3 separate regions of the Homo sapiens genome follow, and all the other regions are linked to region 3. The links come from fine-mapping of genetic effects on gene expression. A gene starts in region 3. Each other region holds a variant in brackets. All regions are shown on one strand. Distances are from middle to middle.

Region 1 (8,009 bases), 43 kb before region 3:
ATTTCATTTCAGGGATCCTTCTAAAGTAAATATTCTGGTACCTGGTGCTGGACTAGGAAGACTGGCCTGGGAAATAGCTATGCTAGGTTATGCTTGTCAAGGAAATGAATGGAGTTTTTTTATGCTCTTTTCTTCCAACTTTGTACTCAACAGGTATTTAATTTATTTTTTGCTGGAAATAGTAATTTCTCAGAATCAGATTGACTTACCTATTTTCTTGAACAATTTTGAATTTGAAGATAAGTACATAGCATTTGATTATTATATATATCACAAATGTGTCTTATGTTAAAATCAAAGTACTTACACAAATTATCACTTGAACCAATTGCCTAGTTATTAGAGTGTTGAAACAAGATGGGTAAGTGACTTTATAGAAAGTGACTGGGCATTCCATGAAATGATTTCTGTACAAAATCTTCAGGACTAAGTATGAACCAGGAAGGAGTATTTCTAAATTTATTCCTTAAGCTTCTTTACTTCCTTGTTTCTTTAGTTAAATAAGAGTTTAGTTTAGCAATTATAACTTTTTCTCCTTAATCAAGTTCTTATAAAATGGCCAAGTATGCTCTCATGACTGAGTTGGAAAGATCTCTCAGAACTTCTGTGGCCTCTTTTGGAAGGCAGTGGAAAACAATTGTTATTTTTAAAGCCAGAAGATGTACATTGAGTAGCTGCCTTGTTTAAATAATATGTTGTCTCGGATGGCAGTATGAGTTTTAGGGGATTGGTGAAAAAGGGAAAAAAGAAGAGGGTTATACAAAAAATAGCAAACTGTTTTAGTTGAAACCAGTACCATTTTAAAAAACCTCGTTGGACTGTTATTACTTGGTTTTGAAGTTTAGAAATACATTTTTAAAAATCTGAATGAACAGCACATTTATATCTCTGAATTTACTTTTTTTTTCTGTCTTTAATCCATTGATTGGTTGCTCATCTACATGTATATGTACATTTTCAGATAATTAGGGAAGCTGTAATAGTGACTCTTTAAATATTAATTATATATGCAAATCTTCAATTAAACAGTATATTTTTAGTATTTAAAGTGGATTTTCTTGGTAAAATATTTAGTTAACACCTGATTTTATACTCATATTTTGCAGATGTTCTGAAATTAATAAATATAAACTTTATCCTTGGATCCATCAGTTTAGCAATAACCGGAGATCAGCTGATCAGATTCGACCCATCTTTTTCCCTGATGTTGACCCCCACAGTCTTCCTCCTGGTTCTAACTTTTCTATGACAGCAGGAGATTTTCAAGAGATTTATTCAGAATGCAGTAAGTCCAAATCAAGCGTTTAAAAAGTCTTGTCCTTTATTCTAAATTTAATGAGCTAGTTTTATCCTAAGCCAAGGTTTAGATCATTCATTTTGATGGTAGAACATAAGGCATATGTCAGTGTCAATTTAGAATGTTTTCAAGGTCGTGTACAAGGCAGTGATAGGAAATAAGAAGTGTAAGATATCTACAGTCAAGAAATTTAGAATCTGTTGGGCCCATTAATACTAAGAGATACCATGTAAACAAAGGTTAAATGAGTAATGAATACCAAAAAAATGAAAGGTTATTAGTGTAAGAAGGAAGCTGTTCATAGTGAGGCTATGACTTGAAGGTTGAGAGAATAGCATTTGAGGCAGACAGAAGTACAAAGATATGAACAAGGTGATTGGGGATGGCAGCACAGCTGTACTGGCAGGGAAAGAAAAGATTTAATGGGAGATTTAATGAGATTTAATAGGAGCTATTGCTAGAAAAGTGAATTTGTTCCAGATCATGGAGGACTTGTATAGTCAGGCTGCACAGTTGACTTCAGCCTGGCAAACTGTTGAAGAAATCTGAGCTAGGCAGGAGAGAAAGGGAGATGGTAATAGGGAAAGTGGAGAGGGAGATTGGCACTAAAAGGAAAGCAAAATAGAATACCGAGGGTTCAGCAAGATCATTGAGTCAATAGGTATTTGTTGAGCACCTACTAAGTACTAGGTATTTTTCTAGGTGTCAAAAGAGAACAGTGAACAAAACAAAATCCCTGTCCACAGAGAACTTCCAATAGAGAAAGTGAGGCAATAACAAATACAATATTGTAAGGAAGAAAAAATAAGGCAGGGAAGACGGGTTACAGAGTGACTGGGGAGAGGCTGCTGCTTTATATAGAGTTGTCAGGGAAAGCCTTTCTAAGAGTAGAAACTAAAAAAAAAAAATGTCTAGTAGAGAACCTTGAAAGAGTACACAGACAAACCACTGAGATATTTGAAGGCAAAATTTTGCAGATGGGGAATGGCAAGGGAAGAGGATCAGGGAGTAGAGTGAGTGCTTGCTCTGCTCAAGGAGGAGCTAGGCTGTAGTAAGCAATGGGTACAGTGGTGAGAGGTCAGCCTCGAGAGGGTTTGATGAGGCAAACTTGTTGGCAGGCCATAGCAAGGACTTGGAATTGTACTCAGAGAAACAGGAAGCCATTGGAGGGCTTAAAGCAGGGATAGCAACAACATAGATTGTTTTTATTTATTTATTTATTTTACAACATAGAAAGTTTTTGTTTATTTTTCTCTGAACTCTGAGACTGGGACAACCTGTACTCTGAAGGAAGAAAGGGAGAGATGGAAGATGTTAGGTGTTGTGGATAAGGAATGAAATAATGGAAAACATCACTTAGGCAAGTAAAAGTCCCCTTTTTCTGGAGCAAGGTTTGAGAGAACAGATGATGAAGGTAGTCCTCCATGGGATCAAGTGCCTTTATTGCACCAGCATTTGTATAGACACCATACCTCCTAGAGGCAAACGGTGTTCTCTACTGGGTTCCCACCCACTGCTTCTGCCTGCCCCTGGCTCCCCTTTTTCCCTGGTAATTATTCGAAGTTGTGGTAGATGTTGAAGTATTTGGATGTCATTCATTTCTCAGTTGGCAACTGGTGCCTGCAGTCTTTCTGAAACCTGCCAGAATTGGTGGTTAACACTAGTTTAAATTTGAATGACTATTATTTTGTTTTAAGTGATTTTAAATGAAGGCTAGAAGTTGAATAGAGGATAAACAAAACTCTAACAAATACCATTTGGTAATAATATGTAGAGATTAGATTATAATATTAGTGTTATTGGGGATGATTTCCAAATTGATTACTTAATCAGATTATTGATATCAGTATTTCCCATAAATGACTGTTTGGTTACTGTAATTATAATGTTGATCAGAAGTTTAGCTTCTGTATCTCTGTCAAATATTAATACTCTGTAAAAGGTAACTGGCAGATTTAAATAATTAATTAAAAGAAAAAAGCAAAATAACATAACAGATGCAGTAATTTGATTTTTCTTCATTAGATACCTGGGACTGTATTGCTACCTGTTTCTTCATAGACACAGCTCACAATGTAATTGATTATATTGATACAATATGGAAAATACTCAAGCCAGGTGGAATTTGGATAAATCTAGGTAAGTTTTTTAGTATTTACTAAAATTTTGTATATTAATCTGAGTACTTACAGCTGTATTACATTTAACTTCACAGTCTCAAATGTGCATGAACATTAGAATTATGTTGTAAATGTTTTAAAACCACTACAGTTTCCTTTAGACTGCATCCTGGTGGTGATCCCTCCAAAGGCAGTGGAAGCTCAGAAGTTGTATATTCACACTTAGGTCAGTCTCACAGTCATTGTAATTTCAGTGTATACTAATTGTTGATCTGATGGTAGGTAATCATTCCCTCATTATCACCATCCCACATGCTGAGACAGTGGTCCGTTCTGTTAGGAAGAGAGTGTTCTCTTTTTCTTTCTATAATGAAGCATGCGGGGAGATTTTACCTCTTCCATGGAATCTTCCTCCCTAGTACATCCATATACTGGGAAGGGTGTAGGTGTGATAACTTCTGTGATTACCTTGAGTTTAAGAAAGAATAGAAACACAATTTTTTTTATGCAAAA[T/A]TTTTTTTTACTGCATTCTACTTACTACTCGATGTTAGAAATTAAATGTTGACTATAACATGGTCCCTCCAGTCCAGAATCTAAAGGAAATTGCCATTTTACTCCTTTTTAAAATAAAGGGGGTATAATGATAATATTCAGGTAGATATACATGTATTCTTTCGTGAGATATATAATCTGTGTTCAGAAAGACATCATGACTAGAACATAAAGGTTTTCAAGATAAGGATTATTATACTACATAAAAGGACATAACGTACATGGTCTTGAGCCCTTGGCCTTCCGGGTGGGTCTAGTTTTGTGACTGATTTCTGACACCTACTCTCTTTTTAATTTTAATTTACCAGAAATTTTGCCATTTGGGACTAAGCCCTGGAGGTAGTAGTAAGTCTTTTGCAAACTTCTCTTAAGAATTCCTTAGGACCAGATGAAAGCAGCTGTACAATGCAATCATAATAAAATAAATATCCCAAACTGTAAGTCTTCTTTAAAAGTAGTTACCTTGGGAAATTTTTCCCAAGGAAAAATGGAAAGATATTACCTACTGGGTATTTGCTTACTGTGGGTTAGGTACTGTGTTGGTCCCTTATAAATACCTTGTGGAATCTCAAAGCAGCCCTATATTGAAATGGCACTATGTTATAGTTGAAGAGACTTAGAGTCTTGGGTTAAATAACTAGCAGAACAGTCCTGTAGCTTACATGTGGCAAAGACAGGCTTGAAGCCCAGAGCCAATTTCTTGATTACCCTCAGTTAATTTGTAAGTTAGCATTAACATGACCCTGTGTTTATATAATTAAATTTTTTGACCCCCATTACTGAGTTATGGTAAGGTTTTATGTATTTCCAGAGCATGTGACTTTCATAGAAACAGCTTTTTTTTTAACATTTGTTTTATTGGTTTATGAATATTTTATTAAGTTATATAATACAATAATTGTAACTACCTGAAGCACATAAAGTTGGCTCCTGATAAGTATACTGTTTGATAAGAGTAGATGTACTATAGTGTGACTTATGATCTGTCATGGGCATCAGAAGTAATGGAGCATGTTGGTTAACAGGAAGTCAATTAGGAGAGCTAATTCCATTATGGAGTCTCAAAACAATTTTGAAAATTGTAATAATGGAGAAACACAGTCCTTAAAAATAGTTATTTGGAAGGTTAGTACTTTATAAAGTATTAACTTACACATCTTTTGCATGTATAAGTTAAAGAATGTAAAAAAAAAAGTCTCAGAATCAGCTTTCTTTTAAATGTTACTGTGTTCTGGGCATCTAATCTGTGTTTTTCATTTTTTATGCCATGTACTCATTTTTGACTCCATATTCCTCCTACCTAATCTCATGGCTTTTCCTACTCTTTGGATTCCCAATCTGTATCTCTGGTCCAAACATCTCTCTTGTGCTCCAAGCCAGTATGTCCAACTTGGGTGTACCACAGATACTTCAAAATCCTTGTGTCTCAAGACCAGCCTGGGCAACATGCCCTGAGACCCCATCTCAAAAAAAAGCCAAAACAAAACAGAAAATGATTCCATGCCTCCCAATATCTTTTCTATTAATCATCTACTCAGGTTACCCTGAAGAAAAATACTGGGAGCCTTTCGTTACCCCTTTTATTAGGTCACTCAGGCTACCATAACAATACCACAGATTGGGTGGCTTAAATAACAAGTTTATTTTCTCACAGTTCTGATGACTGGAATTCCAGGTGCTCACCAGGTTGGTGTCTAGTGAGGGCTCTTCCTTTGATTTGCAGGGGTTACCCTCTTGCTGTGTATTCACATAGCCTTTCTTTGGTTGTGCATAGAGGGAGAAGGAGTGAATGAGAGCATGAGTGAGCTCTTTGGTGTGTCTCTTCTTATAAGGACACTAATCCTATTGGATGAGGACCCCACCCTTACGACCTCATTTACCTTAATTACTTCCTTAGAAGTCCTACTTTCAAATACAGCCACACTGGGGATTAGGGCTTCAACATGTGAATTTGGAGGCAGGGGGACACAAACAGTCAATAGGACCTCTCTTTTTCCTCGCTGTTTGTCTCTAGTCAGTCTAAAAGTTGTATCTCCTAAAGCTACTTAATCGCTCTTGAATATCCTTCTATTCCAGGGTTTCTCGATTGTGGTTTTGACATTTGGGCTGGATCATTCTTCAGTGGGAGTGGTGAGGGAAGTGGGGGTCTGACCTGTATAGTGTAGGATGGTTAACAGCCTTCCTGGCCTCTAAGACTCCAGTAGTACCTCCCAGTTTTGACAACCAAAATGTCTTTAGATATTGAAAAATGTTGCCCTCCGGGGGTGGAGGGTGTTGGCAGAGTCATCCCCAGTTGAGAACCATTGCTCCAATTTCATGGTTTCTTGCCTGGATTAGCATTAGGATTACTGTAGTAATTTCCTTAAGGACGCCCCTGCCTTCAAGTTGTCTTCGGCCCTTTTCATTTCTCCACATAATCATCAGTGACCTTCCTAACATGCAAATCTGTTCCTGTAAGACTCCCTGCATGAAATTCTAGCTTTCTGGAAAACCTAAACTCTTCAGGATTATGTTTTTTACCTTCAGGATTATTTTTTACCACCCCTTCTCTGACCTCAAGTGCCAGTCCTTTGACTTAGCCCTTTCTTTCTCTTCTGTTTTCCCTTGGTTAGTCCTTATGTGTTCTTAAACACTTAGCTCAGGTGATCCTTTCGGGTTGGGTTAAGTATTCTGTATTTCTTATGTTCTAAGAGACTCTGCTGTAACATATACTTCAGTTTGGTATTAGCACCCATATGCTTTTGTTTCCACTGCTAGTCTCTAAGCTCCATAAGGGCAAAGATCTAATGCTTCCTAGTCACCTGGTACAAAGCCTGGCAAACAATGGGTATTAATGACTGTTACATGTATGTATGAATGTATTGTTTCAAAATTTGAAAAAGGGAACATACTAAGATGTCTCGAAGAGATGATGAAGTGCCATCTATATTGGTAAATTCATAACATTCTTATGGTTTTGGCTTTAATTATATAGACCTGGAGGCTTAATTTACCCTGTAAACTGAGAGATCAACCTCTTGGGGATGATTTTACCCTAACCCTGCTTAGGTAGACTAGAACATCAATATATTCATATATAATGGGAAATGTAATGGCCAGCCATTCTGGAACAAATGACATTGGAGGTAAAATTATATATGAAAATGTTGCCCAAACTGCATGAAATCAGATTTGGTGGGGATCATTAATTTACAAATGCTTTAATTAAGGAGGATTTGATGGACTCTTTAACACTACCCAGTTTAAGGAAAGCTAGTAAGCCTTTTAAGGGAACTATTATGCATATGTCCTTTGGGTAAGGCTATGATTTTGGCAAAGAACAAAAGAATGCCTGTGAATTCCCTTTTTCAGTTTTTCATCCTGACCAGCACTCCTTAAACACATTTATTTATAATTTCTTCTAAAAAGAAAGTGTGTGTGTATGTATCCACTGATAAATTTGGGAGTCAGGTAGTGGAGGGCAGGCATTTAGCTACATCTGGAAGAATTAATAAAATGAATCTAACTACATCTGAAGAATTAAAATGTAACTACATCTGGTAAAAGTACCAAAGGAGATCTTTGTAAAGTGTACTGAAAGATAGGTCTTATCAGATTTTAGAGCATTATGAAGCTACAGAATTTTTTTTTCTTTTTTTTTTTTAGATGGAGTCTCACTCTGTCACCCAGGCTGGAGTGCAGTGGTACCATCTCGGCTCACTGCAACCTCTGTCTCCTGGGTTCAAGCGATTCTTATGCCTCAGCCTCTCAAGTAGCTGGGGTTACAGGCGTGCGCCACCACACCTGGCTGTTTTTTGTATTTTAAGTGGAGATGGGGTTTCACCATGTTGGCCAGGCTGGTCTTGAACTGCCGACCTCAGGTGATCCACCTGCCTCAGCCTCCCAAAGTGCTGGGATTACAAGCGTGAGCCACTGTGCCTGGCCTAGAATTTTTTAAAACGAGATTCCCTTTAAAAGATAGATGACTGAACACATACAGCCCTTTCCTCATTATAGTAGTAGTAAAAATATAAAAAGATATAAAACACATGGACAAAGAA
Region 2 (8,009 bases), 72 kb after region 3:
TTCCAGAGTTGTCTCTCTGTGTTTGCAAAGTTTTCACCAATTTAACCACAAGTTCTTTGTTAGTTGTCTAAATCTTCCCTCAAGATGTCCAATGCAACAGCTATTTGAATCAATTTTATTTCTATCACAGCTTTCTTACCTGCTTTGCCAGTCCAGACTGGTTGCTCTTGATGTTTGATGCACAGCTATTACCTTGGGCTCTCTCTTCACCATCATTTGGGGACTGATTCACTTTGCATCTCTGTTATGCTGGCTCCTGTTTCCTATATCCCACACCTTAGTCTTTTTTGATTTCTTCTATCATTTTGATGGAGCACATTCTCCAGTAGCTTTCTAAGAAAAGGTACATGTAAGGTAAACAGAATTGAATATGTTTTTTTCCTTGATTGTGTATCACAGAAAATAATTCTCCAGATGTTTTTCCCTTAAAAACTTTGTCACTAACAATATAAAAATAATTTCTTGTTGTAAATAATTCAAATACTACAAATAGAAATCCAAATAGAAAGTTCCCTTTCTACCCCTCAACTACTCCCCCTCTGACCCAGAGGTAATCAAACTGTTGATTTGGAGCATATTATTTAGATGTGCTTTTATATACGTATGTATGTATGTATGTATGTATGTATGTATGTATGTATATATGTATTTATTTTTGAGACAGAGTCTCGCTCTGTCTCCCAGGCTGGAGTGCAGTGGCACGATCTCAGCTCAGTGCAAGCTCCGCCTGCTGGGTTCACACCATTCTCCTGCCTCAGCCTCCCGAGTAGCTGGGACTACAGGCACCCGCCACCACGCCCGGCTCATTTTTTGTATTTTTAGTCGAGACGGGGTTTCACCTGTTATGCAGGATGGTCTTGATTTCTTGACCTCGTGATCTGCCCACCTCAGCCTCCCAGAGTGCTGGGATTATAGGTGTGAGCCACTGTGCCTGGCCATACATATGTATTTATTATTTTGATTTGTGCATTTATTTATTTATTTACTTTATTTTTTGAGATGGAGTTTTGCTCTTGTTGCCCAGGCTGGAGTGCAATGGCACAATCTTGGCTCACCACAACCTCTGCGTCCCAGGTTCAAGCGATTCTCCTGCCTCAGCCTCCCAAGTAGCTGGGATTACAGGCATGTGCCACCATGCCCAGCTAATTTTGTACTTTTAGTAGAGACAGGGTTTCTCCATGTTGGTCAGGATGGTCTCGAACTCCCGACCTCAGGTGATCCACCCACCTCGGCCTTCCAAAGTGCTGGGATTACAGGCATGAGCCACTGCACCCGATCTATTTATTTTAATTTAATTTTATTTTATTGAGATGGAATCTTACTATGTTGCCCACGCTAGTCTTGAACTCCTGAGCTCAAAGGATCCTCTTACCTCAACCTCTCAAGTATCTGGGATTACAGGCACATGACACCGTGCCTGGCTTTGCATGTGTTTTTAAATAAATTGAATCATATTGTATATATTGATCTGTAACTTGTTTCACTTAACAGTAGTTCCTGTAGATTTTTCCATGTCAATACACATTAGTGCCTTCTTGAATAGTATGTTCAGATGAACTGGAGTGATCAAGATCATAGGTATAGCATTTTCTCTTCACAATCAGTCACAAATACTGACCGAGTGTTATGTGCCAAACTGTCTTCCAGAATCTGGGAATATACAGTGAATAAAACTTTTATTTTTGAGATAGAAAGGGATAGTGAGATGCTTCTCGATGAAACTGAGCTCAGTTTCAGCTTTAATTTGGTTTTCCTTTCCTAGAGTGCAAATATACAATCACATCTCTTTTTCTCTTGGTATAAAATCACAATCATTAAAAATTGAGCTAAATACCTGTTGTGCCACCAGACCAACAGAACAATACCACTGACATAGAAATAGATTTTCTGGATGGATAAACAAAATATGGCATATATACACAAGGGAATATTATTCAGCCTTAAAATGGAGGGAAATTCTGACACATGCTACAACATGGATGAACCTTGAGGACATAATGCTAAGTAAAATAAACCAGTCACAAAAAGATAAATACTGTATGATTCCACTTATGAGGCATCTATAGAAATCAAATTCATACAAACAAAAAGTGGAATTATGGTTGGCAGGGCTAGGGGAGGGGAAATGTTTAGTTGTTTAATGGGTATAGAGTTTCAGTTTTTCGAGATGAAAAAGTTCTGGAGATTGGCCGCACAACAATGTGAATATACTTAGCAAAACTGAGCTACACACTTAAAAATGGTTAGGATGGTAAATTTTACATTATATATTTTACCACAATTAAAACAAAAATGGAAAAAGAGATTCTCACACAGACTCCTTTGTAGTGGGCTTTGTCTTATACTTTGAATAGGTGGTTGAATCTGCTTTCAGCTGGATGAATACTCAGTAGTGGGAATGCAGGATTGAATGGTAATTCCATTTTTAGTTTTTGGAGGAACCTCCATTACTGTTTTCCATAACGGCTGTACTAAATTACATTCCTATCAACAGTGTATGAGGGTCTCCTTTCTCTGCATCCTTGCCAGTATTTGTTAATTTTTGTCTTCTTTATGATAACCATTTTAACTGGAGCGAGATGATATCTCATTGTGGTTTTGATTTGCATTTTACTGCTGATTAGTGATGTTGAGCATATTTTCATATGCATGTTGGCTGTTTGTATGTATTCGTTTGAGAAACGTTGATTCATGTCCTTTGCCCACTCTTCAGTGGGCTTATTTGTTTTGTGTTTACTGTTGAGTTGTTTGAGTTCTTTTAATATTCTGGATATTAGTCCCCTGTCAAATAAATAGTTTGCAGATATTTTCTCCAACTCAACAGATTGTCTCTTCATTTTGTTGATTGTTTCCTTCACTGTGCAGAAACTTTTTAGTTTAACATGGTCTCATTTGTGTATTTTTGTTTCTCTTTTTTCTTTTTAACCAACCAAGAAGCACTGAATCAGTTGTGTACTTTTGTTTTTGTTGTCTGTGCTTATGAGGTCTTAGCTGCAAAATCTTTGCTTAGATCAATGTCCTGAAGTGTTTCCGTTATATTTTCTTCTAGTATCTTTATAGTTGAAGTCTTGCATTTATGTCTTTAATGCATCTTGAGTTGATTTTTGTATATGGTGAGAGATAGGAGTTCAGTTTCATTCT[G/A]CTGCATATAAATATCCAGTTTTCCCAGCATGATTTATTGAAGATGATGTCCTGTAACCAATGTATGTTCTTGATGCCTTTGTCAAAATTCAGTTAGCTGTAAAAATGTGGAATTACTTCTGTGTTCTCTATTTTGTTCAATGGTCTATGTGTCTTTTTATACCAATAGCATGCTGTTTTGGTTACTATAGCTATAAGAATACTTTTGTACAGTTTCCAAAGTTCCTCTTATTATTGATTTCTAGTTTTACTTTATCTTGTGGTCTGAGAAGATACATGATATGATTTTGATTTTTAAAAATTAGTTGAGATGTGTTTTGTGTTTTACCATATAGTCTATTCTGGAGAATGTTCCACATGCTGATAAAAATGTGTATTCTGGAACTGTTGGATGAGATGTTCTGTCAATATTTATTAGGTCCATTTGGTCTAAAGTACAATTTAAATATTATTTTAATTTTCTGTTTAGATAATCTGTGTAATGCTGAGAGTGGGGTGTTGAAGTCCCCAACCGTTACTGTATTGGAGTCTATTTGTTCTGTTTGATCGAATAATATTTGCTTTATATATTGGGGTGCATGCTTTGTTAGGTGCATATATGTTTAGAATTGTTATACTTTCTTGCTGAATTGATTGCCTTATATAATTATAATTATATAATTACATTTTTTGTCTCTTTTAACTTTTTTTTTACTTAAAGTTTGTTTCATCTGATATAAGTATAGTTATTTATGCTTGCGTTTGGTTTCTGTTTGCGTGGAATATCTTTTTCCATTCCTTTACTTTCAGTCTATATCTGTCTTTATAGGTGAGATGAGTTTCTTACAGGTAGCATATAGTTGGGTCTTTTTTTTCAATTAAAAAAATTTTTTTGTAGAGATGGGATCTCGCTACGTTGACCAGGCTGGTCTTGAACTCCTGGCCTCAAGTGATCCTCCCATTTGGGCCTCCCAAAGTGCTAGGATTACAGGTGCAAGCTACCACGCCCAGCCAGGGTCATTGTTTTTTTCCAATCCATTCAGCCAATCTATATGTGTTAAGTAGAAAATTTAATCCATTTAGTTTCACGGTTATTATTGATCTGGGAGCACTTATTCTTGCCATTTTATTAATTGATGTCTCGTTGTTTTGTATATCCTTGGTTCTTTTCTTTCTCTCTTATTGTTTATCATTGTGGTTTGGTGGTATTCTGTAGTGGTAACATTTAAGCACTTTTACTTCCTTATTTGTGTGTTTGTCCTATTAGTGGGTTTTATACTTTCGTGTATTTTCATGATGGTAGATACTGTCTTTTTGCTTCTATGTGCAGGACTTGCTGAAACATTTCTTATAGGACTGGTTTAATGGTGATGAATTTCTTCAGCTTTTGCTTATCTGGGAAAGACTTCACTTCTCATTTATTTATGAAGGATAACATTGCTAGGAATAGTATCCTTGGATGGCAGTGCTTTTTTTTTCGGTATTTTGAATATATCATTGCATTCTCTCCTGGCTTGTAAAGTTTCTATTGAGAAATTTGCTGTTAGTCTGATGGAGGTTCCTGTATAAATCACTGGACATTTTTCTTTTGCTGTTTTTAGAATTTAGAATTCTTTCAGTTTGACTATAATGTGCTCTGGAAAAGATCTTTTTGAATTGTATCTTTCTGGCAATCTCTGAGCTTCCTGTTTCCGGACGTCTACATCTCTTGCTAGACCTGGGAGGTTTTCAGTTATTATTTCATTAAATAGGTTTTCTGTTCCTTTTGTTTTCTCTTCACCTTCCAGAGCACCAAAATTTTGAATATTTGGCTTCTTTATGGTGCCTCATATGTCACATAGACTTTATTCTTTAGATTATTTTTTCTTTATTTTTGTCTGTGTCAGGAAAAATCCTCATTTCTCCTCTACTTTTACACCACAACAATCAGCACAGAGGACTCCTGTGACAAATATGTGTGTGGGAGTTTTCCCATCACATCAAGCAGCGGATGCCAGGTAGGTGTCTTCCAATTCAGTTCTGACACTATCTACCTGAAGATAGTGCCAGATCACACAAGTTGGGGACTCATTCCCCAAGACTACATCTGCCTCCTTCAGATGGAACTTCTAACTGACTGGCTTCAAGTTGGGGTTCCCATGACCTCCTCTTTGGATTTCATTAATTTTGCTGGGGCGGCTCACAGAACTTAGGGAAACACATTTGCTGGTTAATTATAAAGGATACTACAAAGGATATAGATGAAGAGATGCACAGGGCTAGGTATGGGGGAAGGGTTGCACAGCTTCCATGCCTCCCTGGGCATATCACCCTTCAGGAACCTCTATGTGTTCAGCTATCCAGGAACTCACCAAACCTGGTCCTCTTGGATTTTTATGGAAGCTTCATGATGTCAAAATTTCTTCTCCCAGGGTATAGGGTGGGACCCTCTCTGGGAAGGGACTTAAGGCCCACAATCAGAAAGGAGCAGAAAGATTAGAATCCTGCATTGGGCCAGGTATAAGAAAGGCAGGAGACAAATTCTGTTTCCTCAGAACTTCCCCTGAGGCCTAACACACCTGACATTATAACAAAAGACTCAAAGAAAGGATATGGGAGTTATTAACAAGGAACCATGGGTAAAACCCTATATATATCCATGGTTCCTTTATATATATAAAATGGTTCCTTGTTATATATATATGTATATATGTATATAAATCATATATATATAAATCATATACAAATATATGTATTTAAATCATTACACCACATTGACTGGGTTATTTCATCACACTTGTTTTCAGGTGCTCATATTCTTTCTGCTTGATTGAGTCTATTGTTGAAGCTTTCTAATATATTTTGTATTTCATTCAGAGAATTCTTTAATTCTAGAATTTCTTTTGGTTCTTTTTTAATGATATTTATGTCTTTTGTCAATTTTTCATTTGTATCCTGAATTTTCTGATTTCTTTGTATTGTATTTTCAAGTTCTCTTGTATCTCACTGAGCTTTTTAAATAAAACTTTTTTAAAATTAAAAAGAAATTTTTTTTGAGATGAGGTTTCACTCTGTTGCCAAGGCTGGATTCCAGTGGTACAATCATAGCTCAATGGCAGATTGAACTCCTGAACTCCTGAGGTTGAGTGGTCCTCCTGCATCAGCTTCTCAAGTAACTAAGATTACAGGAATGAGCCACCACACCTGGCTGAGCTTCTTTAATGTCATTAGTTTGATTTCTTTTTCCTGGGTTTTATGAATTTCTTCATTGAAATCTATTGCTGGAGAATTATTATGTTCCTTTGGAGGTATCATATTTCCTTGCTTTTTCATGTTTCTCGTGTCCTTACATTGATATCTGTGCATGTGGCATAACCATTGCTTCTTCCAATCTTTTGAATTTGCTTGCACGGGGGGGATTGTATTCTGAAGACGTTTATGTGGCGGTGTTTAGGTAGGGCACTTTGGCTTTGATTCTGGGTGTGTGCAGTAGTATAGTCTCGTTATGATTTCTTCAGCTATAAACAGTGTCAGTAGTGTCTGAGATTTGCTCAGTGGCTTCAGGTGTGATTGTTAGTGGAGGCTTTGGTGAGGTTTTGCTGGGGATGGGGACATAAGATGGGCCAGTCCTTGGGCCCTAGTGGTGATAGCAGTGAGCTGAATGTGCCAGTCTTTGGGCCCTTGGGTGGCATATGCTGACACTGGTGTTAGTAGGGCCAGGTGAGCTGATTCTTGGGCCTGCAGGTGACTTTCTTGGGTGCTGTCAGTGGCAATGGTGGGAAGGGCAGGCAGGTGTGTCCTTGAGCCCCTGGACAGTGGGTGTGGTGTGAATGATGACAGTAGCAGTGGTGAGACAATCCTCTGGTTCCCAAGTGATCCATGCTGGTGTTGAAATTGACTGTGATGGACTAGGTGGGTCAGTCCCCAGGCCTGCAGGTGGTGTGCGTGTGGGTGCCAGCTGTGGTGTTGGTGGCAGGTTGGGTGAGCCCATTCTCAGGTTTCTGGGAGGAGAGCTCAGGTGCCAACTGTGGTGGGTGGGGCAGGTGATCCCTAGGCCCCTGGATGGTGTGCTCCAGCACTGGGTGGGATGGAGTTGGACAGGGTGGGCTTCTCCTCAGGCCCCTCATGGTGCATGTAGCCACTGGCTGTGGTAGGAGGGGTGAGGTGATCCCCAGGCCCCTGGTGGAATGCCTGAGTTGGAGTGGCAGCGGCTGCATTGTGGCCCTGCTGCTGGGGAGGGCAGAGTTGTTTCAGTGGCAGAAGCTGTAAACAGGCAGCAGGGGAAAGCTAGCTTGGCTCCAGCTGGTGGCTTTAAATGAGGCTGCCTTTCCTCAGGGCATTTTTAAATGTGTGGTGACCCCAATATGGAGCATGGTGGGGTCACTGCCAATGGCTCATGGTTTGGCCCTGTAGGCAGCAGCAAACAGTGGAGGTGGGCTGTGGGCAGGGGATATCAATGGGACTCCAGGGATATGGAGATGTGGGGCTGTTGGGTCCCAGGATAGGATGCAGTCTGGTGGTGGCTGGACTCTAAAAATGGCACCTTGCTGTAGCTGCTTAGAATTCATAGTGTGCGTGGAACTCAGTGTGAGCTCCCTCCCTGGAGCAATGCCATCACATGGTCTCCAGGCAGCTCCCTGTTAGTCTCAGGGCCCACTGGAGTCCAGGTGCTTTTTTCCTGTGGCTGCATTGTATATTATTTGTCCATTAATCAGTTGATGGATATTTGTGTTGTTTCTACTTTTTGACAATTATGAATTATGCTGGTATGAACATTTGTATACAAGTTTTTGTATAGACATGTGTTTTCATTTCTTTTGGGGCGATACCTAGGAGTGGAATTTCTGGGTCATATGATAACTCTTGTGTTTGTCCTTTTGAGGAAGTGCCAGAATTTGTTTCAAAGCAAC
Region 3 (8,009 bases):
CTGTTAAACTGGCAATAATCTGCCCCAAAGTTTTTGGGATCAAATGAGATATGTAAAAGTTCTGGCAATTAAAAAATTTTAAACTACTTCCCCACCCTACACTGCTGTGAGGCTTCAGTTAGTCTGAAACACACAAGTTTAAAGATAAGCAGAATAAGTTTGTGTGTATTCCTTTTTCAGTAAGAAGAAAAAAAGTTTCCCTTCTTTGTTGTTTTGTTGTAACTAATGACTTCTGAGTTATTATCCACAAAATTATGGGATATGTAGAATAGGTAGAAGATCCTATTACATCAATAAAAAATGCATTTAGATAGGGCAGGGGGAGGGGTGCAAGGTATTTATGTTTTACATAAAGTGGTACAATGTTAGCTCGAACTAGACTGTGAAAAAATAAAGATGTATATGAACAGTCCTTATGGCAACCACATTATTAATTCAAAGAGGTATAGCTAAGTAAATACCAATAGGTTAACTTAAAATGAAATTCATAACGATAGGAAGGAGGTAGAGTAACAAGAAAGGAAATTTTGAAAGTATTTCAAACTGAAAGATAATAAAAATACAACATACCAAAATTTGTAGGATGTAGCCCAAGCAGTGCTACAGGGAAAGTTACAGCTTTAAGTGTTTATTTTAGAAACTAACAAAGACGGCTGGGCACGGTGGCTCACGCCTGTAATCCCAGCACTTTGGGAGGCCGAGGTGGGTGGATCACCTGAAGTCAGGAGTTTGAGACCAAGCTGGCTAGCATGGTGAAACCCCACCTCTACTAAAAATGCAAAAATTAGCCAGGTGCGGTGGCATGCACCTGTAGTCCCAGCTACTCGGGAGGCTGAGGCAGGAGAATCGCTTGAACCTGGGAGGCAGAGGCTGCAGTGAGCCAAGATCGTGCCACTTCACTCCAGCCAGAGTGACTCTGTCTCCAAAAAGAAACTAACAAAGACTACAATCAGTGACCTAGGTTCTATTAGAAGAAGCTAGAGAAAGAAGAGCAAAGTAAATCCAAATTTAGTAGAAGCCAATGAAATGGGAAAAAGAGAAACTAAGAAAATATTCCAACAAATGTGATGAATGAAATGGACAAATTCCTTGAACAAGTGGATCTGGTACTACTTACAACTTAGGGTAAACTAATTTCAAATTCTACTTCTGGGGCCTTAAAAAAAAAAGAACCCAGAGCAGCAACAAAAACTCAGAAAATGTTATTTAAAAAGAAAAAGAATATTGTCTACAAAAATTATAAAGTGCCTAGGGATAAACTTAACAAAGATATAAGCTCTTTATGTTGAGAAATATAAAACTTTATTGAAAGATTTTTAAAAACTTAAATAGTTATATTCTTGAACAGGAAATGAGCTTGGTATTGTAAAGATAATAATTCTTCCCAAATTGATCTATAATCTCAATGCAATTATAACCAAAATTCCAAAAGGGTAACTAAATGTTACAGAGGATGCTATTATGGAAGAACAAAGGGCCAAGTATAGTTGACACACTCCTAAAGAACAAGATGTCAAAGACTGCTCTCAAAACTTTGATCATCTTGATGGTGGTTATGGTTTCACAGGTGTATGAATGTCAAATTGTACACTTTATATGCACATTATTGTGTGTCATTTAGACCTAGGTAAAGCTGTTTTAAAAACAAAAACAAAAAAAAGCCCGGCAAAACAAGCCTGGGCAACATAGTGAGACCTTGTTGCTACTAAAAATAAAAAATTAGCTGGGTGTGGTGGCACAAGCCATGGGCCCAGCTACTTGGGAGGCTGAGGCAGGAGGATTGCTTGAGGCCAGGAAGTTGAAGCTGCAGTGAGCAGTGATCACGCCACTACATTCCAGCCTGGGCAACAGAGCAAGACCTGGTCTCAGAAAATATATTAAGCTGGGTGTGGTGGCTCATGCCTGTAATCCCAACACTTTGGGAGGCCAGGGCAGGCAGATTGTTTGAGTTCAGGACTTTGAGACAAGTCTGGGCAACGTGGCAAAACCCTGGCTCTACAAAAAAATTTTAAAAATTAGCTGGGTGTGGTGATGTACACCTGTAGTCTCAGCTACTCAGGAGGCTGAGGTGGGAGGACTGCTTGCCCCTGAGAGGTCAGGGCTGCAGTGAGCTGTAATCATATCACTGCTCTCCAGCCAGGGCAACAGAGCAAGCCCCGTTTCAAAAAAAAAAAAAAAAAAGTTATTTAGCAATATACATACAGACATACAAATGGAAGAGTTAAAAAGCAAAGGAATGATTAACTCAACATGTAAAACGGTAATTACCGGGAGTGAGGGAAAGGGAAGGGTATGTGCCAGTGGGGAAGGGACGCATAGGGAGCTTGTCATGTTCTAGTATAGGTAGTATTCTATTTCTGAAACAGAATGCTGTATGTCTTACTATCATTCTTTTAACTACATGTGTATTTTATACAACCTTTTGCATATATGATAAGTTTCACAATTTTGAAAAAATGAGCGTTTGTAAAGAGGAACACAAAAGAACCAACCATTAGCTAAACTTATTATTTTGGGGGTACTCAAAACCTTTCAAACAGCACTTGATGACTACGATTAAGATCTTTCCTGCTGATTTAAAAATGGCAAAACTCTTCCTCTGTTTGAGACAGACGGGTTTTCAATTTATTTTTTTTTTTTTGGAGACAGGGTCTCACACTGTCACCCAGGCTGGAAGTACAGTGGTGCAATCTTGGCCTCTGCCTCCAGGGTTCAAGCGATCCTCCCACCTCAGCCTCCCTGGGACTACAGGTGCAAGGCACCACCTCTGGCTAATTTTTGTATTTTCTGTAGAGATGGGGTTTCACCATGTTGGCCAGGCTGGTATGGAACTCCTGGGCTCAGGTGATCTGTGCACCTCATCTTCCCAAAAGTGCTGGGATTAAAGACGTGAGCCACCGCACCCGGCCGGTTACCAATTTCAAACAAGAAAAGTAAAAACCAAACAGAAAAGCTATTGCTTACTACCCTAACTTGGTACATTTCTGTGCTTGTTAATAACTAATAATTAACTTGTCCTCTCACAACCACCTTGAGATGCAGGGGTACAGGGTAAATTAGTACTGAGATAGTACCTAGCACTAAAATAGAATTATCTTTCTTGCACACTTTTTCTACAGAGGATGATAGTTTTTCCCTTCAAAGCACTGGTAATAGTCTTATTTTCTTCCTTCCATTTCTGCTTACTTGGTTACTGTCTTTATCAAACTATTAAAATAGTAAATACGACCAGATGCGGTGGCTCACACCTATAAACCAAGCACTTTGGGAGGCCCAGACAGGAGATCGCTTGAGCTCAGTGGGGCCCGGCTGCAGTGAGCCGTGATGGCACCACTGCACTCCCGCCTAGGTGGCCGAGAGAGACCCTGTCTCAAACAAAATAAAAAATAAAAATAATAAAATAGTAAATATACTGCAATTGTCTCCACCTCACTTCACCTGACAACACTATTTTGCTGTAATGGCCATAGAATCTTGATCTGACCACCGCCCATAGTAAGCAGGGAACTCAGCCTTCCAACATTAATTAAGAGCCCAACAATTTTAGGTTTCAGTTAGAAAGGACAGCTGCGCTTCAGGCTTGGTTCTTGCCAACTACTCAGCTATTTTGGATGAGCTGCACATTTTGTCTGTAACTTCCTCCATAAGTTTTTAATCAAGAGATCTTCCAGGAATGTAGGGCCTGCTTCACCTTCCACAGCAGCTGCGCAAAACATGCAAAACATACACTTCGATTTGTGTTTTCTGTTAGCTTTAGCTACTTCCCTCAGCCCAGACTCCCTTCAGTCTTTTGTTTTGAATAACAACCTACTGTGAAGCTTCTTAAACACTAGTTTTATTTAAAGCTTGTATTATCCTTTTCCTTTTTTTTTTTTTTTTTTTTGAGACGGCATCTCGCTCTGTTGCCCAGGCTGCAGTGTAGTGGTGCGATCTCTGGCTCACTACAGCCTCCACCTCCCAGGCTCAAGTGAATCTTCCTCCTCAGCCTCCCGAGTAGCTGGGACCACAGGGGCAGGCCAACAAGCCTGGCCTATTTTTGATTTTTTGTAGAGACGAGGTCTTGCTATGTTGCCCAGGATAGTCTGGAACTCTATTATAATCTTTGTCTTAATCTCATGGAGACGCCCCCGTGGTCACTGACTGGAGGAAGGAAATACACATTTTAAAGGTTTTAAATTTCCTATAGAAGGGTCTAGAACGTACCGCGCTATAACGAACATAGTAGTAAGACCACCGCCACACTCCTGAGGAAACAAGGTCACGCCCCTCTGCGGGCCGCTTGATCGGGTCTTTAATTAATCCCGCCGCGGCCTTCCCGCCTACCCCCGAGCGCGCACTTCCGGTCGCGAGGGCGCTCGGGAGCGCGCCCCGCGAGCCTCCACCAACCAGCGGCTCCGCCTGGCCAGACAGAGTGCGCGCGCGCACGTTGTGCGCAGGTTCGAATCTCCGCCGCTTCGCGGTTGCTTCTCAACGTCCGGGCCGCATCTCGGCGGCGGCGAGGGCTGAGCGCGGGAGCTGCCTCCGAGCCGGAGCCCCAGCCCTAGGCCCTGCGCGAGCTGCCCCGCCCTACCCCCTCCAGCGTCCTGTCGCCTCCTCGCCCGACTTCGGCCTGTCCCTCTCTCACGCGCTCAGTCCTCGCTCTTCGCCCCCCGCAGCTATCGGCACTCGGTCTCCCGCGCCTGGCGGGCTCCGCCCGAGCCTCTGGGCCCATGGCCAAGCGGCGTGCGGCCGAGCCGGTGACGTTCCACGTGCCTTGGAAGCGGCTCCTGCTTTGCGACTTCGCTGAGCAGCCGCCGCCACCGCCTCTCTGGATCCGGCCGCCCGGGGTCGCGCATGCTGGGCAGCTCCTCGGCGTCCCAGAGCAGCACCGAAAGCGCAAAATCGACGCAGGGACCATGGCAGAGCCCTCGGCTTCGCCCAGCAAGCGCCGTGACAGCGGGGACAACAGCGCCCCGAGCGGCCAGGAGCGTGAGGACCACGGTCTGGAGACAGGCGATCCGCCGCTGCCGCCGCCGCCCGTACTGCCGGGGCCGGGGGAGGAGCTCCCGGGCGCCCGGCTCCCGGGGGGCGGTGGCGACGACGGGGCGGGGCGCGCAGGACCCCCGCGGGGAGACTGGGGGGTCGCATCGCGCCAGGTAGGGGCTGGGGGCGGGTGGGCTGAGGGGCGAAGGGGCTTGCCTTTTCCCCACACACACAAAACGCCCCGGTTCCCACTCATGACTTGTGTAGGTTAAGACGCCTGAGGGGGTTGAAAGAAGGGGTCACCGCTCCGGGAGAGGACGCCGACCGCCAGAAGCACACCCCGAGAGTCCGATGGGCAGAAAGCACTGGGCTGGGCGAGGGGGAAACAGACCGTGGTCGGGAGCGATAGAAGTGGCCTTGCGGCGTCAGCGCCGCGCTCCGTAAAAGGGAAACGGGACCGTGGGTCGTGGCGGGCTGTGAGCATGGCGAGAACGCAGACCGTCAGGGCATAGGTTCAGCCCAAAGACAAACGACAGATAAAGGTGTAGAGGGCCTTCCTGGGTTTAACGATGATTAGTCTAGAATTCGGGATAGAGTTCTTTTTCTAGAGGGAGACCAGTGTGGTAGCCATTGATTAATTGAACGTCCTACCGGCTGGTACAGCTTCTGGAGAAAAGGATGGACCACCGTACCTTGGTCAAAGCTTTGTTTTAACTCATAGTGTTAAATCTGATCCTAGGCAAAAGTATCATTGAAAATTAATTTGGGGGCGGGGCGTGGTGTCTCACGCCTGGAATCCCAGGACTTTGGGAGGCCACGGCGGGTGGATCACCTGAGGTCGGGAGTTCGAGACCAGCCTGGCCAATAGGGTGAAACTCTGTCTCTATTAAAACACAAAAACTAGCTGGGTGTGGTGGTGTATGCCCGTAATCACAGCTACTCGGGAGGCTGAGGCACAAGAATCACTTTAACCTGGGAGATGGCGGTTGCAGTGAGCTGAGATTGGGCCAGTGCACTCCAGCCTGGGCCACAGAGTGAGACGCTGTCTCAAAAAAAAAGAAAAGAAAAGAAAGAAAAAAGAAAATTAATTTGGGCCTTAAGGCGTATATGAGAATCATTGGCGGGTTTTTATTCAAGACATGAGCCTGCCTCATCTCTGCATGTAAGAATCCTGAGAAGATCTAGGTATGCCTCGGTTTGCCTAGATCTCTGCTGCCCGGCCGCTAGCCGGTAAGAACACTTGAAACGTGACTAGTCCAAATGGAAATGTGCTCTAAGTTTAAAATATACACGAAATTTCGTGGATTTAATAAATGAAGATAAAATAGCTCAATTTTATATTGATTACACATGAAATAACTTGGCTATATTGAAGAAAATATATTAAAATTAATACCAGAAGTTTCTTTTACTTTTTAAATACAGCTACTAGAAAATTTTAAATTATGTTTTTGGAGCATTATATATTTATTGGACAGCTTTGGTCTAGACTTAGGAATTCATACTACTTTTTCACAATCCTGAATGGCAGGGGACTTGGGAGATGAAGAACCAAGTACAGGTTTCTCAGAATTCACCAAATTCTCTTCAGCTGTCTGATAGCATCCTCCCAACGTTTTTCTATTTTCTCAAGTATCTTATGTCAGGGTTTTCAAATACCTTTCCAAAAAAATAAATGAAATTTCTTAGGCATGACTTGTTCATGTGAAAAATCCAATAAAATAACGAGAGTTTTATAGTTGGGAAAGACTTTTTTTTTTTTTTTCCTATGGTTGAAACATGAGCCTTATTTAAACTTTTTCTTCAGATTGCTCTCAGATATTCAAAATCAACTGAAAACAGATGGATAGTCTTCTAAACCATCCATCCATAATGGATATGGAGATTAGGGACTGTGTAGTTTGAAAACTTTTTGAAAGCTCTTCAGACCATTTTAGTACTCCACTCATGCATAGGCTTGTCTCCTACCAGAATACAGAATACACTGTCTATACTATGCCACACAGTGATAAGAGGGAAATATGGAAATGGCAGTAGGCAAAGCGTAAGAGTTCTCTAGTAGCCTGAAACGGTGATGCTTGCTTAGTCTTAGACTCAACTCTTTTCCCCCACAGCAGTAACTAGATCTGGCAGCTCTCTACTTCCTATAGTCGCTGCAAGCGCATGACAGGGAAAAAGGTTGGCTCCAGGGGTTCTTTCTTCACCAAGACTACCCTTGTTCTCTTTGTTGTTTTTTAAAAAAGGGTCTTGGGGTCTCGCTCCCATGCCCAGGCTGGAGTGCAGTGGCACCATCCCAGCTCACTGCAACCTTAGCTTCCTGAATAGTTGGGACTGCAGGTGCACACCACCACGCTGGACTAATTTTTTTTTTTTTGTGGAGATGGGGTTTTGCCATGTTACCCAGGCTGGGCTCAAGTGATCCTCCCGCCTCTGCCTACCAAATAGCTGGGATTACAGGCGTGAGCCACTGTCAGGCCCTCTTTTGAGGAAAGCCCAGTAACACTCCTATTCCTTCTTTTTGTTAGATTTGTTCTGGAGGCGCTTCTCTTTTACAATCATGCTCTCTCCAGCTTCTGTTTCTCCTTCCTGCCTCCAAAGACACAGGCTTTTTGTTTTAAGGATTTTATACCTGATTACCAAGGGAAAATTGAATATAACAAAAAGAAGTAAACAGTTCAATACAGTAAATGCCTGGTTTCTTTTGTGCTCAGAATAGGGCTTAAGTCCCAGCCCTCACCCTTGGGACTTCATTTAGGAAATACTACCTCAAATACCTTTTTTCTACATTGAGAATACAATCTAGGCAGGATAATGTTACGTCATTTCTGTCCCGGAACTTCAGGGTATTTCCTGTTTCAGATGTTTTTTGACTACAGAAATAAAATCAGGTATTCATTAAATATTCATGTATTTTTTTCATGTTAGTGTCACTATGTAGATTCACTGCTCTGTCAGTGTTAACTGTTAGTTTCTTGTTTATTTGTTTGTTTTTCATAAATTGAGATGGAGTCTTGCTTTGTTGCCAGGGCTGGTCTCAAACTCTGGGG

Evidence for each region. PIP is the estimated chance that this variant, and not a neighbour inherited with it, causes the effect.
Region 1: its variant is fine-mapped to the expression of C9orf40 in blood mononuclear cells (TOPMed, PIP above 0.99).
Region 2: its variant is fine-mapped to the expression of C9orf40 in whole blood (INTERVAL, PIP 0.95).

Annotation. Positions count from the first base shown.
Region 1 is chr9:74,991,874-74,999,882 of GRCh38, reverse strand. CARNMT1 (carnosine N-methyltransferase 1) reads left to right here. Exons shown (of 8, transcript NM_152420.3): 4 at 13-153; 5 at 1,107-1,285; 6 at 3,323-3,436. CARNMT1-AS1 (CARNMT1 antisense RNA 1) reads right to left here. Exons shown (of 5, transcript NR_121183.1): 5 at 2,501-3,885. Among named protein-coding and RNA genes, the nearest start is that of CARNMT1, 32 kb to the left of the region's middle. The variant T/A (reference allele first, on the strand shown) is at 3,931.
Region 2 is chr9:74,877,137-74,885,145 of GRCh38, reverse strand. All of the region lies in intron 1 of TRPM6 (transient receptor potential cation channel subfamily M member 6), which reads left to right. Among named protein-coding and RNA genes, the nearest start is that of TRPM6, 6.8 kb to the left of the region's middle. The variant G/A (reference allele first, on the strand shown) is at 3,142.
Region 3 is chr9:74,949,312-74,957,320 of GRCh38, reverse strand. C9orf40 (chromosome 9 open reading frame 40) reads left to right here and starts at 4,409. Exons shown (of 2, transcript NM_017998.3): 1 at 4,409-5,135. The coding sequence starts at 4,710. It overlaps CARNMT1-AS1 (CARNMT1 antisense RNA 1), which reads right to left and starts at 4,356. Exons shown (of 5, transcript NR_121183.1): 1 at 4,204-4,356. RefSeq lists silencers at 4,428-4,637, 4,908-5,117 and an enhancer at 5,448-5,517.